Linked DNA regions of Homo sapiens: region 2 is linked to region 1. Evidence: fine-mapped expression QTL. A gene starts in region 1. The other region holds a variant in brackets. All regions are shown on one strand. Distances are between the middles of the regions.

Region 1 (5,371 bases):
AGATGGGAAAATATTTAAAATCTGGGTGGCCTCAAGAGAAAGGCCTGATACAAATAATATAATACTTCTTACTTCTGAACGATGGTTGGATACACATATTCATGGCAAGAGAACAGCCTTTTGTCTTCCTGGCCCACTTACTGTCTTTGGAGTCATTTCTTTGGGTATGGCCTGGGCGGTCCCAGCAGGAAGGCTGTGTGGGCTTCTCCCCAGTGAAATCCAGAACCATGAGCCATTCTTGCCCTGTTTCACACGGTCAGGAGGGAGAAAGGGCGCTGGCAGATGAAGGAAGCCCAGAGCTGGAAGGGACCCTAGCCAAACCCTAACATTTTACAGTCAGCTGGATTCTGGTGCCCTTTCCACTGTATCCTGGGGGCTTTCTCACACTTTTGCAATGGAGTGAATCCCTTTTTAATGATCTCCCACTCCTTCCAAAAAGAACACTTATTTACTTACTTTACCTACAGTTAAGATGGGCTTACAGGCATTAATATTATTGTTCAGTTGGCTCTTCTGGAGGTATTCTGATTAGCCCCATTTTACAGGTGGGAAAACCAAGGCTCTTTAAAAAATGAGACAAGCTCTAAATTCTGGGAAACCCCAGGTCTCTAACCCCAAATTTGTGGGGCTCTTGCTGTGTGTTAGGGACTATTCGGTGCGTTACCTATATGAACGCCTGGGTGCTGGCATTATTATACCTATTTTTTTGGATGTGGAAACTGAGCTCAGGGTGGGTATTTGAGCACAGTCACAGAGCCAGAACTCAAATCTGGCTGTCACACAAGGCCATCCCTCTTCTGGAGTGCCACTTGTGGAATGCCCAGGTGGATCCCTGCCCTCCTCAGGGGGTGCGTGTGGGCGGAGGGAATGCTTTATCGGCCAGGCATACATAAGCCTTCACCTCTCCAGGACCAAGAAAGGCGGTCTTGCAGTCTCCCTAACTCCTTCGCGAACTTCCCGTAGGTGGTCAGGGCGCTCGGCGGCAGGACCACGGCCCAGCTTTGTCTCCCCCACCTGAGGAGCGTGCACCAGGCCGCGCCCCGCACCACCCCACCTCCGCCCACAAGGCCCGCGACCACACGGTCACCCGCGCCCACGGCCGCCTCCATCTTACATTTGGGGATCATTATTTATTCCCCGACCTTGGAAACACTTCATGAGCACCGTGCTCGCCCTACTCCACCCCTCCCACCCCGACTCCCCTGCCCTCCGCATCCCCTTCCTCAACTGCCAGAGTCGGGATCCCAGGTGGGTGCAGGATTCAAAGTGGAAGGTTTGGACACCGCAGTCCCAGTTCCCGGTCCCTCTGAGCCGGGGCTGAGGGGATTCCCCGTCATCTGGAAAAGCCAACGGGCTTCAGCAGGGCCAGGGCACCGCCTCGGCTGGAGAGAACCCGCCCGGGCCACACACACCTCTCGGGCAGCTCAGAGAGGCAGCGAGGGCAGCGCGGGGGCAGGGGGAGAGGCGTGCCGCGTGTGCGCGTGAGTGTGCGCGTGTGAGGGTGAGGGTGTGAGCATGTGTGTGTGTGTGTTGGGGTGTATGCGCAGGCGCGCGTGCGTATTAAGATCCGGGGTGTAATTCCGCAAAGAAGGTCCAGGAGATCGGGCATCGCTAGTATGGACAGAGCTTTGTGTCCAAACAGGCAGTGCAAGGACTAACCCGCGAGGGCGGGGAGTGGGGTTCTCCCGGGAGGGGCAATGCGAGGAGCCGAGGCTGGGCACCGGAGGGGAGCGGGATTCCTATCCCGGACGGGACGCCTGGATGTGGGAAGCTCCGGACCTGGGCTCCTGCCGGAGGGTCCGTGCGCCCCAGACCCGGCTGGTCCGACGCGGGTGACACCCACACCCCAGGGATGCTCCATGCCAGGCACCGCGCACGGGCCGCGAGGTCGGGTTCCCGAAACGGCGCCCGCAGCAGCGGGGAGAGGAGTGGCCTTTAGGGGGACGCCACACCTCCCGCCCCGACCCGGCTCCCCGGATCCTCCGGGCGCCTTGCCCGCCGCCCACCGGGCCCCACCCGGGCAGCGGAGCCCGCACCGCCCGGCCCGGGGCTTCCCCGGCGGAGCACGCGGGGCGCGGGGCGCGGGTTACGGCCCCCCACTCTGCGCCCACCGCCGCCCACCGCGCGGGAGCTCGGGCGCAGGGACGCACCGCCGCGTCCACACTCCCGCCGGCTCCGGCGGTCCCTCCTCCAGGCACTCACAAAATTGTCGCCGCAGCCGTTGTCCGGACACAGCACATAGAAGGAGACGCCGGGGTCGGCGTAGAAATCCATCCTGCGTTCGGTCTCCTCGGTGGCGATGAGCTCGAAGGGCGTGTTGGAGCACCATTTCTCCGCAACGTCGGCCAGCTGCTGGAAATCCATCGCGGCCCCGCGCCCGCCTCCCGCCGCCGCCCGCCCTCCCGCTCCTAGGCGCCCTCCTCCCGGGCGGGCAGCGCGGCGCTCGGCTCGGCCTGCGCGGGCTCCTCCGGGGCCGGGCTGGGCCGGCTGGGACTGTTTACATGCGGTGCGGAGTGGGGCGGGCGGCGGCCGGGGACAGCGCGGCGCCGCGCCCGCGGCTCCTCCTCCGCCCCGCCTCCCCCCGCCCCCTTGCGGGCCGCCGTGGGGGTTGGCGCGGCCGGGCCGGGACGCGGGGCGGCGGGAGGAGCGGCCGGCACCCCCGCGGGCGCCCGGATTTTCCTGGGCGCTCCCGCCCCCCCTTTATTTTTAAACAAACCCGGAGCATCCCGGGGCCCTGGCCATCGCGGTGCCGCCCCGGGCCGTGACGTCATGGGCCCCAGCCAATCACCGGAGCCTGAGACCGCGCCGCGGCTTGCGAGCCCGGTGACGTCACAGCGCGAGCCTGGAATCCGCAGCTCCGCGGGTTACCTGGAAGCGGTGCGAGCGCCCAATACCTGGTTAGCGTTTCTGTGGAGTTAGAAAGCCCAGGAAGCGTTTGCCCAAATGCGATTTAAATGCAAGGGAGGCCATAGAACTGCAGATAACTTGGACCTTGTCTGGGGCTAGCAGTGGAGGAGCTGAGAAAATCTAAGGAAAAGGGAGCTTTTCTTTTTGCAGAAACCAAAGTTCTGTTCTCCGATTGATTTAAGGGAATGTGTCTTCTTAATGCATTTATCAGACACTAATATGAATGTTCACTTGCAAAGGGCGTGTGTGATTTTTTATTTGCGTTACGTAAAGCTGAATATTTCTTAGAAATGAGCCTCATAAGACTGGCTTCAGTATTATTCAGCTTGAATTCACATTGCATAACCTAAAAAGGTCAAGAGGATAAAGCACATTTTAAAACAAGAGTGTGTGGCCCAACGATTGCACCTGTTGAGTGCTCACTGGCTGCCATATACTGGACAGGCATTACTGGATTGCAGAAAATGCACTAGGGTCCTCGCCCTCAGGACTTGAACACTACAAACACAGACACGTTATAAACATTCAGCCAGCTTTTTTCTGTAAAGTGTGTCTTCTGAACCAGGCACTGTGCACGAATTTACATTCCCACCAACACGTATATATGTTTCCTTTTCTCTGCACCCTCACCAACATCTGCTGTTTTTTGACTTTTTAATCATAGCCATTTTGACTGGTGTGAGATTGTATCTCATTGTGGTTTTAATGTGCATTTCTCTGATAATTAGTGGATGTTGAGCATTTTTTCATATGTTCGTTGGCCACTTGTATGTCTTTTTTGAGAAATATCTGTTCATGTCCTTTGCCCACTTTTTAATGGGTTTTTTTTTTTTCTTGTTGAGTTGTTTGAGTTCCTTGTAGATTCTGGATATTAGTCCTTTGTCAGATGCGTAGTTTGCAAATATTTTCTCTCATTCTGTAGGTTGTCTATTTACTCTGTTGATTGTTTCTTTTACTGTGCAGAAGCTTTTTAGTTTAATTAAGGCCCATTTGTCTATTCTTGTTTTTGTTGCACTTCCTTTGGGGTTTTAGTCATAAATTATTTGCCTAGGCCAATGTTGCAAGGAACTGAATTCTGCCAACAACCCGAATGAGCTTGAAAAGCAGATTTTTTTCTCAAACTTGTTGTCTTTTCCAGACAAGAACTGAGCCTGACTATTACCATGATTGCAGCCTTCGCAGAACCTGAGCGAGAACCCAGTGATGCCATGGCTGTGCTGGGACTTCCGACTTTCAGAACTGTGGGCTATTAAATGGGTGTTGTTTTAAGCTGTTAGGTCTGTTTAAATTCTTCATGCAGCAGTAGAAAACTAATACACAGGACAATGAAGGAGACAGGCACATGAATATAAAAATGCAATATGCTGTTGTAAAGTTACAAAATGGTCCTTAAAAAAAAAAAGTATGGGTGTCTCCAGATAGCACAAGCTTCCTTGCAGTTTTACCTGGCACCACCATTTAAAGCATAATATGTGTTCCAAAAATGAATTCCTTAAATTGGAGATGAAAATATGAAAAATACATTCCTTTTTTCCTTTTTCGGGAAAGAAGGAGTTTTTTTTTTAATCCATGTGTTTTAAAATGTATCAGTCAAATTTGCTCCAAGTGATGTGATCAGAATTATGAAGTTATGTTTATTTAACAAATAGTTTTTGTCAGAAAATGAAAAACTCTTATGAAAAATAAAATTTTGGGTACAAAGCAATTGGTCAATGAAATGGATACCGTTGGGTTTCCTTAGAAATGCACTGAGAGCAACAGCAAAAGCTTCAGAACTCCATGTCTGCATTGATTCCTCCCTCTGCCATTTTAAGTTTTATGTGCATCTGCAACTTCCTTCATTGCTCGGAGCTCAGTTTTCTTTTCTGAAAACAGGGACAACAGTGAGATAAAGTATATAAAGTCCTTATCCCAGAACCTAGCACATAGTAAGAACTCAGTAAATGCCATTATTACTCTTAATCTACTTCTTAGGGATGATGTGTAAGAAGATCAGCTAATGAATTTTTAAAGTGAAATTCAGGAGTGATATGACTGGTAATATTGGTCACAGATGAACCTAAATCTCATTTTTTTTTCCAAGTCTTTAGAGCAGGGTTTCTCAGCAGCAGCACTATTGATATTTGAAGCCAAAAATTCTTTGTTGTTGGAGGCTGTCCTGCACATTGCAGGATTTTTAGCCACATTCCCTGGCCTCCACCCACTGGATGCCTGTAGCATCTCCCTCTACCCTCCCCTCTCTCCACTGTGACAAGCAAAAATTTCTCCAGACATTGCCAAATGTCCCCTGAGTGCAAAATTACCCCTACTTGAGAACCACAGATTTAGAGAGAAAAGTCTTGCAACAGTCGTGTTTTGGTCATTTTTACTAACTAGTGGAAAGGGTATGCACATAAAGCAGCTGAAATTCATCCTGGAAAGTTCATCTGCAGAAGTTGCTTGAAATTTTGTTTCCTTAGAACAA
Region 2 (5,371 bases), 27 kb before region 1:
ATGCAATGTGCCTTCCATCTCATCTTCGGCATTTCCCCAGCCCTTCTCAGCATGAGCTAAATGGCACACTTCATCGACCGGTCAATAAGTCATGTTTATCGAACTGACAGTGTGTGACGCAGGGGTGTGGGAGCTGCAAAGATGGGTGAGCAGGGAAAAAAACAACCCAGTCAAATGTTAGGGTTTATGTATAAAGAAGGCGGCTCTTCACTTCTCTTTCCCCAGCCTGGACATTCACCAACCCTCCTTTCCAAAAGCTCCACAAGGAGATGGGCATCATGATCACCCTGAACTCAAAAGCCCTTTCTTTATGTGGTGCTGACCTCTAGAGGCTTCTAATTAAAAAGCATCCGAAAGGGCCAACTTAATTTTACTGCTGGTTTTTACACTGTACATTGTTGCCCTATTTCCCAACAAAATAAGGATAAAATATGTTACTTTAAATGATCCCTAAAAAAATGCCTACCTTGTTCCTTGACTGCCTAATTAAAACTTGCCCAGATCATTACAAATGCCATTGTTTACTCCAAAAAGGAAAAAAGGAGGGTTAGAGATAGGGAAAGTACTTCAGTTTTTTGTTTTTTTTTTTTTTGCCTATTGTGGTCCTAAGAGGAAAGCACAGTGCCAGCTTTTTCAGGATGCATTTCTTGAGTTTCCAAAGGGCCAAGTCTGCTAAACAGAGACAGGAATGTTCATTCACTCTGATTTGGCAGGGCACAGGGCAAAACCACCCTGACACTCAGGTACACGGACAGCAAGTCCACTTTGTCCAGCCCCGGCGTGGCGTCCAAATGCTGGGTGGTGGGTCTGGTTCTGTTTATTTTGTTGTCCTTCAACCCAAACCTGTACACAAAGAACTCTATGACAATGGAGGATCCCACTCGGCCCAACTTCACTATGGAAACGAGGCTCATTTCTAAAGGGAGTGAGACTGTTGATTACATCCCTAAGCTGAACACCCCAATTTTACTTTGTTGTAGTTCTGACTCCTTATTACTTTCACGAAGGGAAGGAAGGTGTGGAAAGGCAGGAGAAAACACGCAGGGACATAAGCATTTGGGCTAACACACAGCCACGATATCAACTGGCGTCTTCAATTCTAAAAGGGATCCTAGGGGAAAGAGCTTCAGAATCCCAGGACAGTTTTGCCAATCCTGGCCGCCCCACCCTGGTTCTGTGAGTGTTTCCATTACAACTGTGCTTCATGTCCTCTCTACCGACTCCTGACTCCCCTAGACAAGTCAGGGCTAGTGCCCAAAGGGAACTCGGGGACAAGTCTCCCACTCTTTATTTTTACAGATGAGGAAACAAAGCCGGAAGTCGGTGGGGTGGGGAGGGGACATGCCTAGGGCCACAGTCAGCCCAGGAGGAGTCTGGGCTAGAACCTCTTGCCCTCAGCCACTGATTTCAGAATGATTACACGGGGGAAATGTGGGTATTTTTAACACCAGTGCCCGCACTTAAAGGGGCCAACCTGCATTTTATAAACTCTATCTGTGAGACGGATACAATAACTGTAACAAAGGAAGTCCATAAGTAAGACTTCGCCTGCCCCCGCTGCTGCACCACGAGCAGGGTTGGGACTGCTGACACAGAGCTCACCACTTGAGTACAATCTCTAACAGCCACATCGAAAACAAAGGACCACACACTATCTAACATACACACAAGCCTTTATGCTGTGCCTGTAAAGCAAAACTCAAATCTAATCGAATCTAATGGGTCTCTCTATGGAGACCCATTCATTTGGAGAAAGAAACTGGCTCTTAATCAAATAACAGAACTTACCATCAACTTCCAGATGAGTTATTTAAATGCCATGTTTGGTGAATAAATAACCGGGAGGAAGGTGGTGGAGACATGGTGTCATGTCATAGAATGACCACAGAATACAGATTTCTAATTAATGCCAAAAAGAATTCCTAAGTAGGCTAGAAAAAATAGGGTTCTCAAACACAAAACTAAAGTATTGGTTCAAAGAAGTAGAAAATTACTAACTACCAGTTATAGCATCACAATAGACATATGAATGCATCACACAGAAATGATTAATCTTTGAACAATGGCAGTGTTTCATGTTACCAGCTCCTCCCTCTCTTCCCCCAGCCTCCTCACAAACAGCAACCACACAGCGAGCTGCCGGTCCTTTACTCTTTGCTCTTCATTTATAAGCCACATTAGGTGTCCTTTGGGACCAAACATTGTGGAGGCAGAAAAAAAGAGGCAAACACCACCAGAGTTTGAAAGGCTCTTTAATAGCAAGCGAATGGTAATTACATGGTCGGATGAGGTCCTCACTCTCAGGGGAGGGAGGAGGGAGCAGAGGTGGACAGGGTGCAGTATAGGATTTACACTGTTTGAAGCATCTAACGAAGGGCAACAGTTTTTGGCAACCCAATTCACAGTTTTGTAATTTACAAGAGATTTCTTTGAAAGGAAATAGGAAGGCAAAGAAAGCACACATACCCTACCGGCAACACTTCTTGCCTAAAAAAAAAAAAAAACAACAACCAAAAAACAAAAACCCAACAACTATTCCTTGCTTTTGCTTCTTGTGTAGATGACTAAATTTTGCTCTCATGCTCAAATTAAGACTGGATCACGGATAGTGAAGATCTGCCCTAGCATTGAAGATTTACTTCCTCCTCTTCAGAGCTGACATTTGTACTGCGCACTACTCTTATCTTTATCTGCCTAGGTGTCAGAAGGGGCTTAGTAAAAAATGAAACTTGAGAAACAAAACAAAACAGAAAAACAGGGAAAGGCAGTTTACAAAGAACAGACTGTCAGCTTTCTGTCTGGTATCAAACAACTTGAATACAGCTCTAAGTAAATTAAAACATTTATTTTTATGTGGCCTGGCATCTACTTTTAATCGCTTGTGCCTATTCAGCCTTATAGTGCTTTAAATGGGGTTTCTAACATGAAATGCTCATGGGTACTATATTTTCGTAATCCAGATTTAAATAAAAATATAAAAGACAACATATTATGTTAAATAATATGTTGTCTTTTATATTTGCCCAGTGAGCAGAAGCTATAGATATTTTACCATGGACACCCATTGCCATGGACACCACAGGCTACCAGCATTCTGGCAGGTTTCAGAATTACTCTCTATAAAATCTAAAAGACTTCAGCTTCTTGTGTCATACCTGTTATCACTAAACTGGGAGAAGTGACTGGGTCTTTATGAAAAAG[G/A]ATCAGTTTTTAATTCAAAGAAATTTTAGGCTTCTCCGAAGACTGGGTGATCAGCAATGGCATCTCTTTGGAGCTAACACCCACTGCAGGGGAGAGGGGTCTGTGATCGCTTAAGCATTAATTGTGCTCTTTCTACAACCTTGAAGCACAGTGAGGAGGTTGGCCCTGCCCTCTGGCCTGAGGGGGCACTCCTGCTTCCTCCCCGCTGCCAAGGACACCCAAGTTTGCTTTGTGATTTACCTGCCGGGTGCCTGGAGCCCCTCTCAGATCTGCCTGCATTTGGGAAAGACAGGCTTCTCAGGCTGGCAGCTGGTTTTACTGAAGGAAAGAGCCCTACCAGATGAGCAGGGTTCCTGTTGGTCTCCTTGGCTGGGGGGCACTTTTAAAGTGGCAAAGCCATGCCAACACAAGGCATTGCCTCTCAACATACAGTCAGTTCCTTTGAGGAAAGCAGGCCCCCAGTGAGACAGCCGTGAAAATGAAAACAGTTTTCCTGGGGCTCAGGTGGTAACTGTCAGACCCCAACTCTCCCATTCTCCCTTATTCATCTCCTCCCACCCCAAGTTAAGTCCTGCCTATTCCTTCATGCCTCTCTGTAAGAAATCAGATCTGTTCATACCAGTTTCCCAACTTGTGAATTTTAACATGCAAAGCCTATTCCTAAAATATAAATTCCAATGACACTTGGGACCACAGCTCCCCTAGGTCCATGTACATTGTGCTCTTATGAAACAGAAACAATATTCAGAAATATATTGTGCTAGAGACGGTTTCTGTTTATACATGAAAGATGACAGCAACTATAAAGGAGAGAGGTTTTCGTTGAAGTACACTGGAAATCTAATTCTGGCACCAGGACACAAGGAGGATCCCTACATAAGAGACTTTTCCATTGCACCATGTGCTGCTTTGGGCCTGGGAGACAGGAGTGGACACCTGAGTGCAGGTGAATCCACAGTGGTGACAGGCACTACACGGGGCCTCACCTCCCTCCCTGGCTCCGTACTTCACTCTGATTCCTTGACGTCTGCTCGATATGGTGATCAGGCTGCGGAAACCAGGCGGCCATAAGAACAATGTCTCTAGGATTCACTCAAACCCAGGATCACGGTTTTGTAATGTTATCAAGGCATGATTTTGGATTTCAGAGCTGGCCCAGTGAACAACAAGCAATCAAGCATTCCTTTCTCTTTCTTTCTCTCTCTCACATATACACACACACTCTTTCTCTCTCACGTTACTTTCACTGTCACTTTCTCTCTACTGGATAACAGGCCAAAAGTACTGGCACTCATCTTTCACTTTCTTCCAGCTATTCTTCCTACACATCTCTCACTCTCAGGTAAGTTAAACATACACCACTTCCAAAGCCCCAGTCTGCCACAGCACAAAGAAAAGCCATGTCTCCACAGGCAGAGCATGTACAGCTGAGATAAGTCCTCTGGGGCCTCACCTTTCCCTTTCCTCTAAGGAAGAGAATTTCATCTGCCCCATGAGATCGAGCCCTCAGGGGCTTGGGCACTCACAGATCAACATGTTCTAAGGTAGTGCAGGGGTCAGCATCCTAAAGGCAGCACCTTGGCAAGATCCCACATGTATTTTCTTCTCGAATCCCTAAAAGTTTCCTTGACTGTTGCTCCTTACTCACACACACACATAAGGCAGGCACAGAAGGGCAGTGTTTACAGCTGGAAGGGCAAATGCCCCTTGTTCACAGACCAGTTAGACTTGTCAAGGTCACACAGTCCTTGGCCGACTTGAACTAGAACCCAGGTGTCTCTCCTGCGTCCAAGGTCAACACTCCTCCTCCCACACCGCTGCCACCTCCTGGTGAGTAAATGTGTAAGTCTGTGAAGGGTCAGGGATGTGTTTCACCATGGAACCATTTCCATAACAGAAACCACAGGCTGCCAGGCTCACTGACTGCAGCTTTGCACCATGCACAGCCCTGCTTAGAGCAGCCACAGCGCAGGAAGAAGTGAGTGTGTGGGCAAGTGTGTGAGCACGAGAAGGGATGTGCACACATTCAGAAAAAGGAAGTCTTAGAAGAAACAATTCGATCTGCTAATGCTGTTTGGGATTTTGCTATGGAGATTAAGTAACATACAGACATGTTCTCTGTTTCCTACCCCTGGTGCAAAACAAAGCCCAGAATTCTCATCAGCCCACA

Evidence for each region.
Region 2: its variant is fine-mapped to the expression of MTURN in whole blood (TOPMed, PIP above 0.99).

Annotation. Positions count from the first base shown.
Region 1 is chr7:30,132,130-30,137,500 of GRCh38, reverse strand. MTURN (maturin, neural progenitor differentiation regulator homolog) reads right to left here and starts at 2,515. Exons shown (of 3, transcript NM_152793.3): 1 at 2,203-2,515. The coding sequence starts at 2,364. LOC105375216 (a long non-coding RNA gene) reads left to right here and starts at 2,787. Exons shown (of 3, transcript XR_927146.3): 1 at 2,787-2,897; 2 at 4,046-4,184. RefSeq lists silencers at 1,388-1,567, 1,888-2,027, 2,220-2,597, 2,368-2,617.
Region 2 is chr7:30,159,628-30,164,998 of GRCh38, reverse strand. It overlaps MTURN (maturin, neural progenitor differentiation regulator homolog), which reads right to left. Exons shown (of 3, transcript NM_152793.3): 3 at 2,237-5,371. Among named protein-coding and RNA genes, the nearest start is that of MTURN, 27 kb to the right of the region's middle. RefSeq lists silencers at 1,491-1,550, 5,148-5,207. The variant G/A (reference allele first, on the strand shown) is at 3,202.